Linked DNA regions of Homo sapiens. The protein of the gene in region 2 interacts with the protein of the main gene of each other region in a pairwise test. Each region holds a gene or a part of one and is shown on either strand. Other genes may lie near its edges. The genes, in order: PSMG2 and PSMG1.

Region 1 (6,490 bases), on a different chromosome or scaffold from region 2:
ATAACTGAGAGATTTGAAGATGCTAAGCTGCTGGCTTTGAAGATAGAAGGGCCCATGAGCCAAATAATATGGCAGCCTCTAGAAGCTGGAAACAGCAGAACACAAATTCTCCCTAAGGCCTTCCTCAGGAGCAGTGCCCTGCGATCACCCTGATTTTAGTCTCGTCAGACCCACTGTTGGATTTCTGACTCCTAGAACTCAGAAGTCAGAATTTAAAAGCAAATTTGTGGCTGGGCATAGTGGTGTAATGCCTGTAATCTCAGCACTTTGGGAGGACATGGCAGGAGGATTGCCTGAGCCCAGGAGTTTGAGACCAGCCTGGGCAACATGGCAAGACCTCGTCTCATTTTACTTAAAATACAGAATGAAAATTAATTAATTAGTTAATGAAAAAATTAAACTGGTGTGTTTTAAGTCACTAAGTTTGTGGTGATTTATTAGAGACAAACTAGGAAGCTAATAGAGAGTCTGAAATTAAAAAAAATACATTTAAGACAAAATTACTTAGGAAATAAAATTTTATTGTACAAAATTTACATTTGGTGCATATGATGAAAAGCATGGCAAAGAGACCCTTAATCTTTTTTCTTTGATATTTACTGTGAAAGTAATTTCCTAATACCAGATCATACAATTTTTTTGTATAGAATGTTTAACAGCTGTGTTGGTAGTAAGTGTTTTGGGTATAAGGTATAAAACAGAAATTAGATCAGAAAAGTGCAGGGGGAAGACCACTGCCAAAGAGTAATCTCCAAGAACTTGGTATTTTCCACCGTGAGGCAGATACTGTGGGGTCATCGCTCTGTAATTGAAGAACAAAATATTTTAATCTTTAAACTTTACCATCAAATCTCCTTTTAAAGTGAATTATAAAACTCTCCTTTTGTGTTCCTTTTGGTTGGCACTTTTATAGCCAGGTTTTATTGTTAAGGAAAAATAAAGTTTCTTTGTCTTCATGTCAACTGAAGATAAATTTCTTTAAGTTCCAAATTATAAAGATATGCCAGAAAGGCTGTAGATGAAGTTTATTAGGGAAAATCACATTCAAAAAGAATAGGGATTAAAAAAAAAATCAGCATTATGTGATTTGTATCAATTTGTTCTTGGCAAAAGCATGAATTAAAAAGCTAGTTACCCATCTTAGAAAGCAGCCTTATGCTCAGTGTTCTGTTATGCCTAAAGGCTAACTCACTTCCCTGGGTGTAATGCTCTCATTTCATAATAGAGAAAAATATCAACTGTAATACATATTCAATAGCTACAGTATTGCTCACATAGCAATACTTTTTACTTCCCTAAAAAAATTCCTGAATTCCACAGAAGGCTTGTTTATTATTGCAAGACTATGTCTGGCATAATTAATCTAACATGAATAGTAAGTACAATGAAGAACTAAGGATTTTCCTTTTTGGAAAGTCAGCTTTAATGAAAAAACTGTAAATAATAGGTTGGTTAACTGTCCTCTAATTTTCAAAAGTTCAGCTTAAACTAAATTTTATGTAAAGATATGTCTATATTTAATACAAACGTTCACTTACTTGGTCTACTTAGGTAGTATATAAAGTGCGAGTTAATGAATACAACCAGACAAAGAAGAGGCTTAAGCTATAATAGAACTTACAAGTGGTTTGAGTATCTGAAGCCACTCATTAAGATACTCAACAAGACCTAATGCATCTGGGATGTTGTCCCCTTCTGAAACAAATTTCAGCAGAACTGCCATTTGGATTTCTTTAGAACAGCTACAAGAAATAAAAATAAGAATCAGTATTCTTTCATAGGGTACAAGAGCTGACTCTAGTGTGTCTGTTTTTACAGCTACGATAACCTACCTGGTTTAGGAAAGGAAAAGACGCCACACCATAAGATCACTTATCATCTCCCTTCGCCCCACACAGAGTTTTCTACTTGTGAGAGCAGGCCCCTGTAACACCCACTGGGGAACACGCACAATCATGCCTCACCCCATGGCTGCATGAAAAACCAGCCTTTCTGTCCTTGGCTACAGCAGATAAGGTATGTTCTGACCTACTCCCCAAACCTACTTCAGAAGACAGTAATTTTCAGAAGCACCACAGCAGAGACTGAAAGAAAATAACACCTAGTTACTATCTAAAGCAGTGAGGGAAACTGTGGAAGAGAATGGAATCATTAAAGGAAATAAAAGTTCCTACTTCTTCCGAAAACGCTGAGTGGTTATTATGTGTTAAGCATTATCTGCAAATTTTATGACAATCCCTGTAATAATCCTGAAGAAGCTATAATTAGCTCCATTTTATAAGTGAATCAGTTTGGAATAACGGGAACAAAGACAGACACCAGGATTCAGATTCTAGCTCTTCAACTTACCAGATATGTTGGGCAAGTTACTTAACCAGGGGTGTTCCTCATCTATAAAAGGGGGATGATAATGGAACCTACTTCACAGGTTGTTGTGAGGCTGAAAGGAGGTAGTGGAGGCAAAATGCTTAAAACAGTGACCACACAGTAAATATGAAAGAAGTATTAGCTACTTTTATGAGGTAACAGGTTTAAAGAGATTGAATACAGGCTGGGCGCGCTGGCTCAAGCCTGTAATCCCAGCACTTTGGGAGGCCGAGGTGGGCAAATCATTTGAGGTCAGGAGTTCGAGACCAGCCTGGCCAACATGGTGAAACCCCGTCTCTACTAAAAATATAAAAATTAGCTGGGCATGGTGGCATGTGCCTGTAGGTACTCAGGAGGCTGAGGCAGGAGAACTGCGTGAGACAGAGCAAGACTCTGTCGCAAATGAAGAAAAAAAGATTTAATACATAGTTAACATGCCCAAAGTTCTATATCTAGTAAGGTCTCTATATCTAACTATATCTAGTTAGGTCTCTCTAACTCCAAAACATAGTCTCCTATCATACTATAAACGCCTCAAGCTAGTGATGAGATGGAGATACACCAAGGCAAAAAGTTTCCTGCTTGCCAATAAATGCAAAAATTACTCCTAACACCCTAAAACCAAGAACTATGAGAAAAATGCCATGCCAAAACTTGAAAGCACGAGACTGACAGAGAAGAGAGCTACAGAAATAAAAGTGAGCCGAGTTCTAAGGAAGGAAAGGCACCGAGGAGACTCTGATATATACATTCGGAAGTCTCAGATGATACCAGGCTAACTTTAGTTTCTGTCTCTAAAAACTACAAAGTAGAAACTGTTAGCCTCACTCACCCTAGCCCAGTACTTGGTTCTCAAACACCTTAGGGGCTCTCAATCTTTGTATGGAACCACTATGAGCTCTGATGGCTCAGAAAATTCCAGTTCCTAAATGCGTCTGCTGTGATGGCCTCAGGCAAGGCTCTCGCCTGGAGAAGGCTGGCTCCGAGGCTGTGCTTGCATTTTCAAGGCTCTAACTTGGAAAGCGCAGGGGTATGCTCTTCAGCTTATCGCGCCTCTTATTAGTTTGTCACACAGTGTGGGATAATCATTTCAATATTACCCTCTGGTCTTCTGCTAAAAAGAAAGGCAGAGGATGACTATTATTATTACTTTTTTATTTGGAACTATTTTATTCTGGTTGATACAACTGAGTATTTTAAATATTGTTTCTTCAGGGTAAAATCCGCATTTCCTGAATGTTTGATGCTGAGTAGGTCTAACTTTTATAATACTTTCTGTTTATCACCGCTAACTTTGTGGGCAAGCTTATAGCTAACCAGAAGCTGTTCTTTGCCTGTCCTCATAGTTTCACCCTATACCCAAGAAGACAGACCCAAGGAAACAGACCCCTGGACTCTGATGAGCAGCACCCCTGCCCTCGGATTCTCTGCCCTGTATTTCCAGTTGCCTCGGCCTCCCTGTAGTCTTAACTGATTTCCTCCACTCAGCTCTGCTTGGGTTCCGCTCCCTGTGCTGCAGTCCAGAAAGTATCTCAAGCAGAAAGCCAGGCAACTGTAGACTTAAAATTTGCCTTCTCTTAGGGATGACAGCTATGTGCTGCCTGTAGTCCAATGTCTGGAAAACAGTTGTTTCATAAATTGTCAGGTTCCAGTATTTTTATGGCAGGAGGGCAAGTCTGATATCAGTTACTCTGTCTTGGTCAGAAGCAAAAGTTTAGGAGGATTGATTGGTAAAGTAAGTGCAACAAAGTATAGAAGAGGTGGAGTGCAGTGGGAGTGCAGACGCAACTTCCTTGTCTAGAAGACAGGAAAAGGCAAGATTGCAGACAGGAGGTGAAGGGTAAGTTGACTCTTAGAAAGGAGGTAGGTGTTTGCAAGGGGGACAAGAGAGGAACACGGAACAAAAACACAAGGGAAATGAGAAAATACTGAGATGAGTGAAAATGAAAACACGACATGTCAAATCCCAGGGCATGCAGTGAAAACAGCACTAAGAGGAAAATTTACAGCTGTAAACACATTCAGTAAAAAAGAAAAAAACTTTTAAATTAATAACCTAAGTTTACACCTTGGAAAAGAGAAAAAAAAGCAAATCAAATCCAAAGCTAGCGGAAAAAAATAAAGATTAGGTAAGAGAGAAATAATAGAGAATAATAGAATAATAGAGAATAGAAAAACAATAATCAGCAAAATCAAAACTGGTTCTTCAAAGAAAAACAAAACTGACAAATCTTTAGCTAGCTTGACTAGGAAAAAAAAGAAAAGACTCAAATTATTAAAATAAGAAATGAAAATGGGAACATCAACACCAATTTTACAGAAATAAAGTTGGGAGTTATTATTTATGGGTACAGATTTTTTAATTTAGTATGACGACAAAGTTCTAGAAGTAGACAGTGCTGATGGATGCAGATGCTGTGAATTAATGGCACTTGATTGTACGCTTAAATATAGTTAAAATGTGTGATAAATGTAAATTTTGCACGATGTATATTTTACCACAATTAAAAAAAAGTGCGCGTGTAGAGGTTGCAAAGAATAAGTATTAGAATCCCTAAAAAGTCACACAAAATAAAAGCATTAAATATGGCTTTTGAGAAACCAGTTCTTCTATAACCAAGTTTAAATCTTTCCCCTAAATGCAAGAGCTCTACAATAGTACCAGTTTTGTAAATATATTTTCTTTTTTTCTTTTTGAGACGGAGTCTTGCTGTCTCCCAGGCTGGAGTGCAGTGGCGCGATCTCGGCTCACTGCAAACTCCGCCTCTCGGGTTCACACCATTCTCCTGCCTCGGCCTCCCGAGTAGCTGGGACTACAGGTGCCCACCATCACGCCCAGCTAATTTTTTGTATTTTTAGTAGATACAGGTTTTTACCATATTAGCCAGGATGGTCTCGATCTCCTGGTCTTGATTGATCTGACCTCGTGATCCGCCTGCCTCGGCCTTCCAAAGCGCTAGGATTACAAGTGTGAGCCACCGTGCCCGGCCTAGCAATATATTCTCAAAGTTTCAGTAAGTAATCCAATACATTCTCTGACTTAATTTTGTTTTTTTTGTTGTTGTTTTTTGTTTGAGACAGAGTCTTGCTCTGTCACCCAGGCTAGAGTGCAGTGGCACGATCTCAGCTCACTGCATTAATTTCATTTTTAAGTAAAGTGGGAAACAAATGAACAGGCAAACAAACTCACCTTTCATCATAGAGTGTTTTTGTGATACCTCCTCCCGGAATGCGGATACAAAACTCGGAATCATCTATTTCAGGAATGCACCGGCTTTTTTCCATTTCTTCCCAGTTAAGGCTCTTTATTTTATTTTGAACACTTTTTTGCATGGAAGGTGTAAGTAGGTACCGGAAGGGAGTACTAGAAATAATCATATAGTTAACTTTTTAAAAACTCTAAAGCAAACATCGGTTCTTTAGCTAAAATTCTCTTGGTCTCCATATATTCTGCTGCACAGGCAAAACACAAGTTTCAGCAGACTTAAGTAAAAAATATTGCTCTGATTTGCTACTTACTTACTTACTTAGGAGACAATATAAAAAGACAGAAACACTTAGGCAAGCCCATTGCAAAAATTTCCCACAGCTTTCCTCCCTTCTGCCATGAAGCCTGTAATGTCTTTTGTGAAAGTCCTGGAAATTAGCTCATTTTGAAAGGTAACTCTTGGCTTGTTGGTATTTTTTCATCCTGGTTTTATAGGTGTCTAAGTGATAAAAGTTATGATCTACATCATCTAAAACAGTTACAGTGAGCCAAGACTGTGCCACTGCACTCCAGCCTGGGTGACAGAGTGAGACTCCATCCCCAAAAGAATAAAAAATAAAAAATAAATGATCTAAATGCTACATCTTGGGGCCGGGCGTGGTGGCTCATGCCTGTAATCCCAGCACTTTGGGAGGCCCAGGCAGGCAAATCACCTGAGGTCAGGAGTTCGAGACCAGCCTGGCCAATATCCTGTCTCTACTAAAAACACAAAAAATTAGCCGGGTGTGGTGGCATGCGCCTGTAGTCCCAAGTACTCGGGAGGCTGAGGCAGGAGAACCGCTTGAACCCAGGAGGCAGAGGTTGCAGTGACTCGAGATTGCGCCACTGCACTCCAGCCTGGGCAACTGAGAACTG
Region 2 (6,474 bases):
ACTCCTTTCTTACCACATCACCGTCAGCATCTTTGAGGTGGGGCACACAAAGGTGTGTCAACATGGAAATACCACCTTACAGTTCTTCAAAAGCATTCTTATATCATTATTCTCACAATTCAGCAAAGCAAGCAGAGAATTTCCTTCATTAAGCAGATGAAAACCTGGACCCCAAGGGAAGTAGATAACCACCCAGGGAGTACTGTCACCAGTATTATCTGTAGTTTACAGCTGAGAAAACTGTTGCTCAGGAAGCTTCAAGGCATCTGCCCAAAGTCACCTGGCCTGTAAGGGCTGGCCTGGGATTGAACATAGTCTGCTTTTCCAAGATCACTCTTCCTTACTTACCACACTGACCCTCAGCACAAGAAGAGGATTAGCTCCAGCTAGGACCAGATTCCAGGTCATATGATGTTACCTCAGGGCTCTGCAGGCACATTTCTGAATGAATGAAAACTTTTTTTGCAACAAGGGAAATGCTTAGATTTCTGCCTTCGGGATATATTCATAAGCATACTATGCACAAGACTTCCAATTCTTGATTATGTAAAGGAAACCAAGTTTACTCAAGAAGGAGTTAGAACACAGTATCTCCTTACCATACTTCTAATCATTACCAAAAACAGTAAATGAACTGGAACTAGAAAATATAAATGGGTAAGTACTCTAAATCTATAGTATGTAAATGATTCAATAACTAAAAAGGTGAAAAAGAAAGCAGAAGAGATAAGAAGCATTTAACTCCACCATTTTAAAATTTATTTTCATGAATGCAGTTCAGTTTGTGGTCCTGTGAAGTTGTGTGGCTACTCCGGGTTCATGATTCCATTCACACTCCTAATGATAACACATGACTGTAAGAGAACTGCTGACACGCGCAGAGCCAGCCTTGAAAGAGAGCCCTGGGAAAGTCTGGGTGAAGAGGCTATCTGTCAGATATTACTAAAAAGTGAGGACATACACATTTCTGTTTCATTTTTAGTAAATATATAATTTTGTTACTTTGTCATCAATTTTTACCCACAAGATAAAAAAAACTGCAGGACTCCTAAAATATCCAGAAACTTTCCACATATTAAGAATCACCAACAGGTCAATGAATAGTTACACCTAATTAACTACACTTTGCCACATGAATACCATCTGCTGATATCTGTAGCTTTGAAAAATTTAACTAAAGTTGGGCACAGTGGCTCACACCTGTAATCCCAGCATTTTGGGAGGCCGAGGCGGGGGAAATGCTTGAGCCCAGGAGGTCGAGGATGCAGTGAACCATGATAGCACACTGCACTTCAGCCTGGGCAACAGAGCAAGACCCAGCCTCAAAAAATAAATAAATAAATAAATAAGATAAAAATTTAACTATAGTACCTTAAAATATTCAAATACAACAATACTCCCACCTAGTGGATAAAAGGAAAATGCTTGGCTTATTTTGGTTGTGAATAATACCACCATAAATAAGGAATTAAAACTACAATTAATTTTTTACAATTTTATTCCGTTTCATCATTCTCAAAATATATCCCCCAAAAGTAATCTACAAAAGAGTGCAGGCTGCTCCCCTTAAAGGAATGGACAAGTAATATACACTACAAAACAATGTTTAAGATCATGTATAAATGTTACTCTGAATCTCATTTGTTGTCATCAATTTCTTTAGTATCTCAGTGCTTTGGGGAATATTCTGAAAGGAGAGAAAAAAGTGAATACAGTGAGACCCCAGGGATTCAGGCAGAGGCAACACCCCTCCCTCCACGACCAACAATCTCCACACTCGAGACTTAAAAACAGCCATGGGACAGGCGTGGCCTTTACTCTCCTTCTCAACGAAAAGGCAAGTGGGAAAGTCAGTTCAACAGGCCCTTTCCCTGCCACACTCGCCGATGATCTCCTGGCCTCCGATGGTCTCCTGGCCTCTGGAGGAAGTCTATGCTCTAACCCGCCCGACCTTCCCCACAAGATGTCTTCCTCCCCTCTCCACCAACACCACACTCCTCACGGCTCTCCTCACACTTTCCCACTCTGCTCACACTGCTTCCCTCTGCACACTTCTACCCAAGATTCATCCATCTTTCAAATCCAACTAAACTGCCACACAGGAAGAACTCAAAATAATTCCACCTTATTGAAAATACCACTTTTAAAAGGTCAGAAACAACGAACTGACTCAGGCTGATGTAATTGGTCATTAAGAAAACAGCACCCTGCAGAACCACCATCTTACCCTCCTGCTAATCATTATCTCCAAAGCAAAAATGAAAATGCTGAGTTAAATTTCCCCTTGAAAGTATATTCATAAAAGCTGAGTTTCCTTAAGCCCCATATGACAGATGATTTCCAAGTCTCTGAACAAGTCCAAGCGTTTATGACACACCTGTGTGCTACACACAGTCCTACAGCAGTAAACAAAACAGCCCAGCCCCTGCCCATGGGAACTCATCTCTGAGTTAAGTGGGATGAGGCAATTGGCTATTTAAACAAACAAGACGATCAGCATATACTTTGAAAGAGATGCTAAAAATAAATTAACTCCATGTGTCAGAAAGATTACCCTGGATTCTAGCTAATTTGCAAGATAAGCTTGCAGTATACTAAATCAGAGTTTTACAGCTGTACTCTTCAACAAATGGTTATTGATGGCTTTATTCAACATGCCAGGTATGTGGTAAACTTGGGATACCAAAATTAAAAATCGTGGTCCATTACCACAAGGAGCTGACAATCTAGTAACAAACTAATTTATGAGACCTGGGAAATGAGCTACTTCCAACAACTTACCACAAAAGTCTTAAAACTAATGGCCATTCCAGAATAAAACCGGGCTGAGGGACAATGTTGTTACAACCTCTTTCCTTTAAAGAAACCATGCTTAAACCAGAGGCTGTGGACTTCCAAAAAAGTCTCTTAAGAGAAAACAATGGAATCCCTAAACTACCTGAGATTACAGGCAAACATTTTCATGTACGTGTTCCAATTTTTTTAGAAAATGAGACCAAAGGTATAAACCAAGGGTAAGGAAGAGGTTCATTATGTAATTCTCTCATCTTCACATATACAGTTCTCTGTAAAATTGGGTAAATAAATATTATAATAATTTGATCCACACTATACTCAAAAATAACCGTCTCAAAAATTAAATAAAAATTTTTTAAAAAACCTTGCAAAGTAGTTATAGAAGCTTATTGAACAGTAAAACCATCTGTCCACATAGACATTTGGGATTTAATTGCACTGCATTAATCTATCATACAAGAACAAAGCATTCGTCAAGTTACAGACGTATACAGAAGAGATGATGACAATCAAATTCAAACTGCCAGACTAGAAAGCTTCGCTTTGAGAAGAATGGATCTCCAAGCATTGCTTAGGGTTTAAAATGACAGTATACATTTATGTTTGTTACTAAGCTGATTATAACAATGCAGCTATTAATTTAAATGAGTTAAAACCTTACCTTAACCAAACCCTTCAAGCTTCTGGTAGAAAGTATAGGCTTAAAAGCTTCCACTGTGATTAGGTCTAATTTCATCACATCAGTATAACACAAGTACAGAATTGCTGGGATTTTCCATACTTGACAGTAGCTTAGAACTATGAATACACAAGAAAAAAAAACGATGTAAGTTTTCTATTATGTTACTTTTAAATTAAACACCTTTAAATAATAAAGGCTGTTGTTAAAAGTAGTTATCTCAGCTGCCTCTTTCAATCAAGGTATTTACTGCAATTTTGAACCAATTATAATGAAGATTTTCTTTCAAAGTCAATTTATTTTCCTAATAATCTCTTCTTTTGCAAATATTAATTTTATATTTCCTGAAAATACAGCTGAGATGATTTAAGTAGCTGAAAGATTAAAATTCTACTGACTATAATAAAGCATATAAATAACAAATAAGTACAAAATGCATAAAGTGAAATATTTAGCCACTTCTCATTCTAGTAAACATTGAAAGCAAAAAGAAACCCCAACCAAACCCTATTTTAATACAGTTCATATAATAAATAACAATTATGTAATATATTACCCACTGAAAAGTAAATGGCAGTCTCTTTGTCATATGATGGCAGATGTGTGTGATGGTAATAAAAAAATTAAAGCAACTATCAAGATTCAATATTCAAAACTTCTGTTTTGATAATTAAAATGTACTTTATCAACTTTTGATGCACCAATAATTTATATTTAACACTGGCTTGCATTCTGAATAATCAAAGACCAAAAAGAAACACAGCATGTCTGAAGCCCAACAGTTAAGAAACATGAGCTCCTCAAATAACTGTGTCTGGAAAATCTGAAAACTCAAACTAAATATACTGCACTTGTAACTACAGATATTGAGGACTAACAGCAATATATTGGTATCAATCATCATTAATAAACTACCTCAAAAAGACCTCTAATGGTGAAAAGTAGTATCAATAAAGCAATAAGATAGAATGTAAATGTTACAAATTTTAATACCACCTGCTGCAGGAAGGTCGTGTACTATATTCGGTTGTTCTAGCAATGGACAACACGCCGAGTCTTTGAAATTCTGTGTTTTTAGGGCTCTCAGGAAAGGAGAAGGAAGGCTGCCGGTGGATTCTGAGGTTTTATAATCGGTAACATGTCGACATGTGAGAATAGTTATCTGCATGTTCTTCCTTGGACAAGAGCCAAAAACCTAACATAAAATTTATTTCAAATTAAAAAAAACATATAATTTTGTTACAGAATGGAAACATTCCTCTAGGTATTCACCTAACACCACAGACAATAATAGCATGCCTAGCAGGGGTGGGAGTGTGCCTTGGAGAAACAGAACACACCTGCTGTCACAACCTGGGTTTGATCTTGGTTCTGCTTTCTAGGTGGGCAATTTTTCCAAGTCACTCTCCTCATTAGTGAACTAAGGTGATATAGTTTAGATGCCTGTCCCCTCCAAATCTCATGTTAAAATGTGATTCCCAATGTTGGAGGCCGGACTTGGTGGGAGGTGACTGGATATGGGGGTAGATCCCTCATGAATGGCCTAGCACCACCCTGTTGGTGATACGTGACTTCTCACTTCTCGCTCAGTTCATGCTAGAGCTGGTAGTTCAAAAGAGGCTGGCTCCTCCCCTCTCTCATGCTCTCGCCATGTGATCTGCCTGCTCCCCCTTCACCTTCCACCATGATTGGAGGCTCCTGAGGCCTCAGCAGAAGCCAAGCAGATGCCAGCACCATGCTTCCTATACAGCCTGCAGAACTGTCAATCACTTAAACCTCTGTTCTTTATAAATTACCCAGCCTCAGGTATTCTTTATAGCAACACAAGAATAGATGAACACGTAATGCCAGCACTACCTACTTAAGGGGCCTGCGATGTGGAGTAAATGAAGTCAGAGTGCCAGAATAGCGACTACAGGTCTGCCGTCCAGAGAAAAAAAGTCACAGGTACACACCTGACATTCATTCCCTCTCCCACCTACCACTGACACCTTAAAAATAACTCTCATGAAATTCATTTTTGGAATTACTACACTTATAGGTAAGCTTCAATCACTGTGGTTCTAAATGTCCTCTTCTATAAGTAGAAGAGTCTGGATTTGATAGATTTCTAAGAACCCTTTTACCTTTTAATAAGATCTAAAGTGATGTAAACAAAGAAAGATGGGCGGGAGGAATCCAATTGTGTTTTATACTTCTGTGACCTACCATCCTCAATGCTGAGGACCAACTGTGTTTTATACTTCTGTACCTCAGCATTGAGGACGGGAGGACACAGAAGTATAAAACACAACTGGTTGGTCACGTTAAATAAGCAAGTTCTTTTATTCTTTATATTCCAAAAGAAATTCCCACAATATTTTAAAGAAATAAATATCTGACTGCATAAGTTTAAGTTAAAAGACATCGAACCCTTAAAAAATGAAAACTCCTGTAGACTAACCATTCACAGGTTTTCATTTCTCTCTTACCTTTTCCAGCCACTGATACTGTTGATCTTCTGCAACATAGCAACTGCACTGACAGAGAAAAACCTGAAAAGTCAAGTTCCACGCTTTTTGTCAAGTAAGTTTTATACACACCACAAACTATCACCATATATGTAACATGTGAATGACAACACTTAGGTAATACTTATTTTCCTGGCTCCACTATTGACCTACTTATTTCTCTTTAAAATTTAACAGTCAAACCACTACTGGTGATTAGTATCAGAAAAAGTGCACACTGACAGAGCAACTGAAAGATTTGCCATACTAAAGTATACTACCAGTAAATAACATGTAAGTGATACTTAAATAACTGCTTTTCAAACATACAAGTCCCACCTACCGAGGGATTGGATTTTAGATGATAAAACACACAAAAAGCCTCTGTGGAGGACAGATGTGTAGTGTCTGTTGTTCTACACCATTCATTCCAGAGTTTAGCACAACCAACTTCCTCCCAGACTCCTGAATTCATAACAAATGATGACAGAAATGCTGTAAAAAACAATT

The links.
Region 1: the proteins of PSMG1 (region 2) and PSMG2 interact in binary tests that used the Homo sapiens proteins (3 or more experiments, as listed by UniProt).

What each region holds. Positions count from the first base shown.
Region 1 is NC_000018.10:12,719,751-12,726,240, reverse strand, and holds the end of PSMG2 (proteasome assembly chaperone 2), read right to left. Parts: intron 5,732-6,490; coding exon 5,558-5,731; intron 1,743-5,557; coding exon 1,622-1,742; intron 803-1,621; coding exon 710-802; 3' UTR 501-709; downstream 1-500. UniProt on the Homo sapiens protein: Chaperone protein which promotes assembly of the 20S proteasome as part of a heterodimer with PSMG1.
Region 2 is NC_000021.9:39,173,978-39,180,451, forward strand, and holds the end of PSMG1 (proteasome assembly chaperone 1), read right to left. Parts: intron 6,460-6,474; coding exon 6,308-6,459; intron 6,010-6,307; coding exon 5,947-6,009; intron 4,671-5,946; coding exon 4,472-4,670; intron 3,595-4,471; coding exon 3,458-3,594; intron 1,688-3,457; coding exon 1,613-1,687; 3' UTR 792-1,612; downstream 1-791. UniProt on the Homo sapiens protein: Chaperone protein which promotes assembly of the 20S proteasome as part of a heterodimer with PSMG2.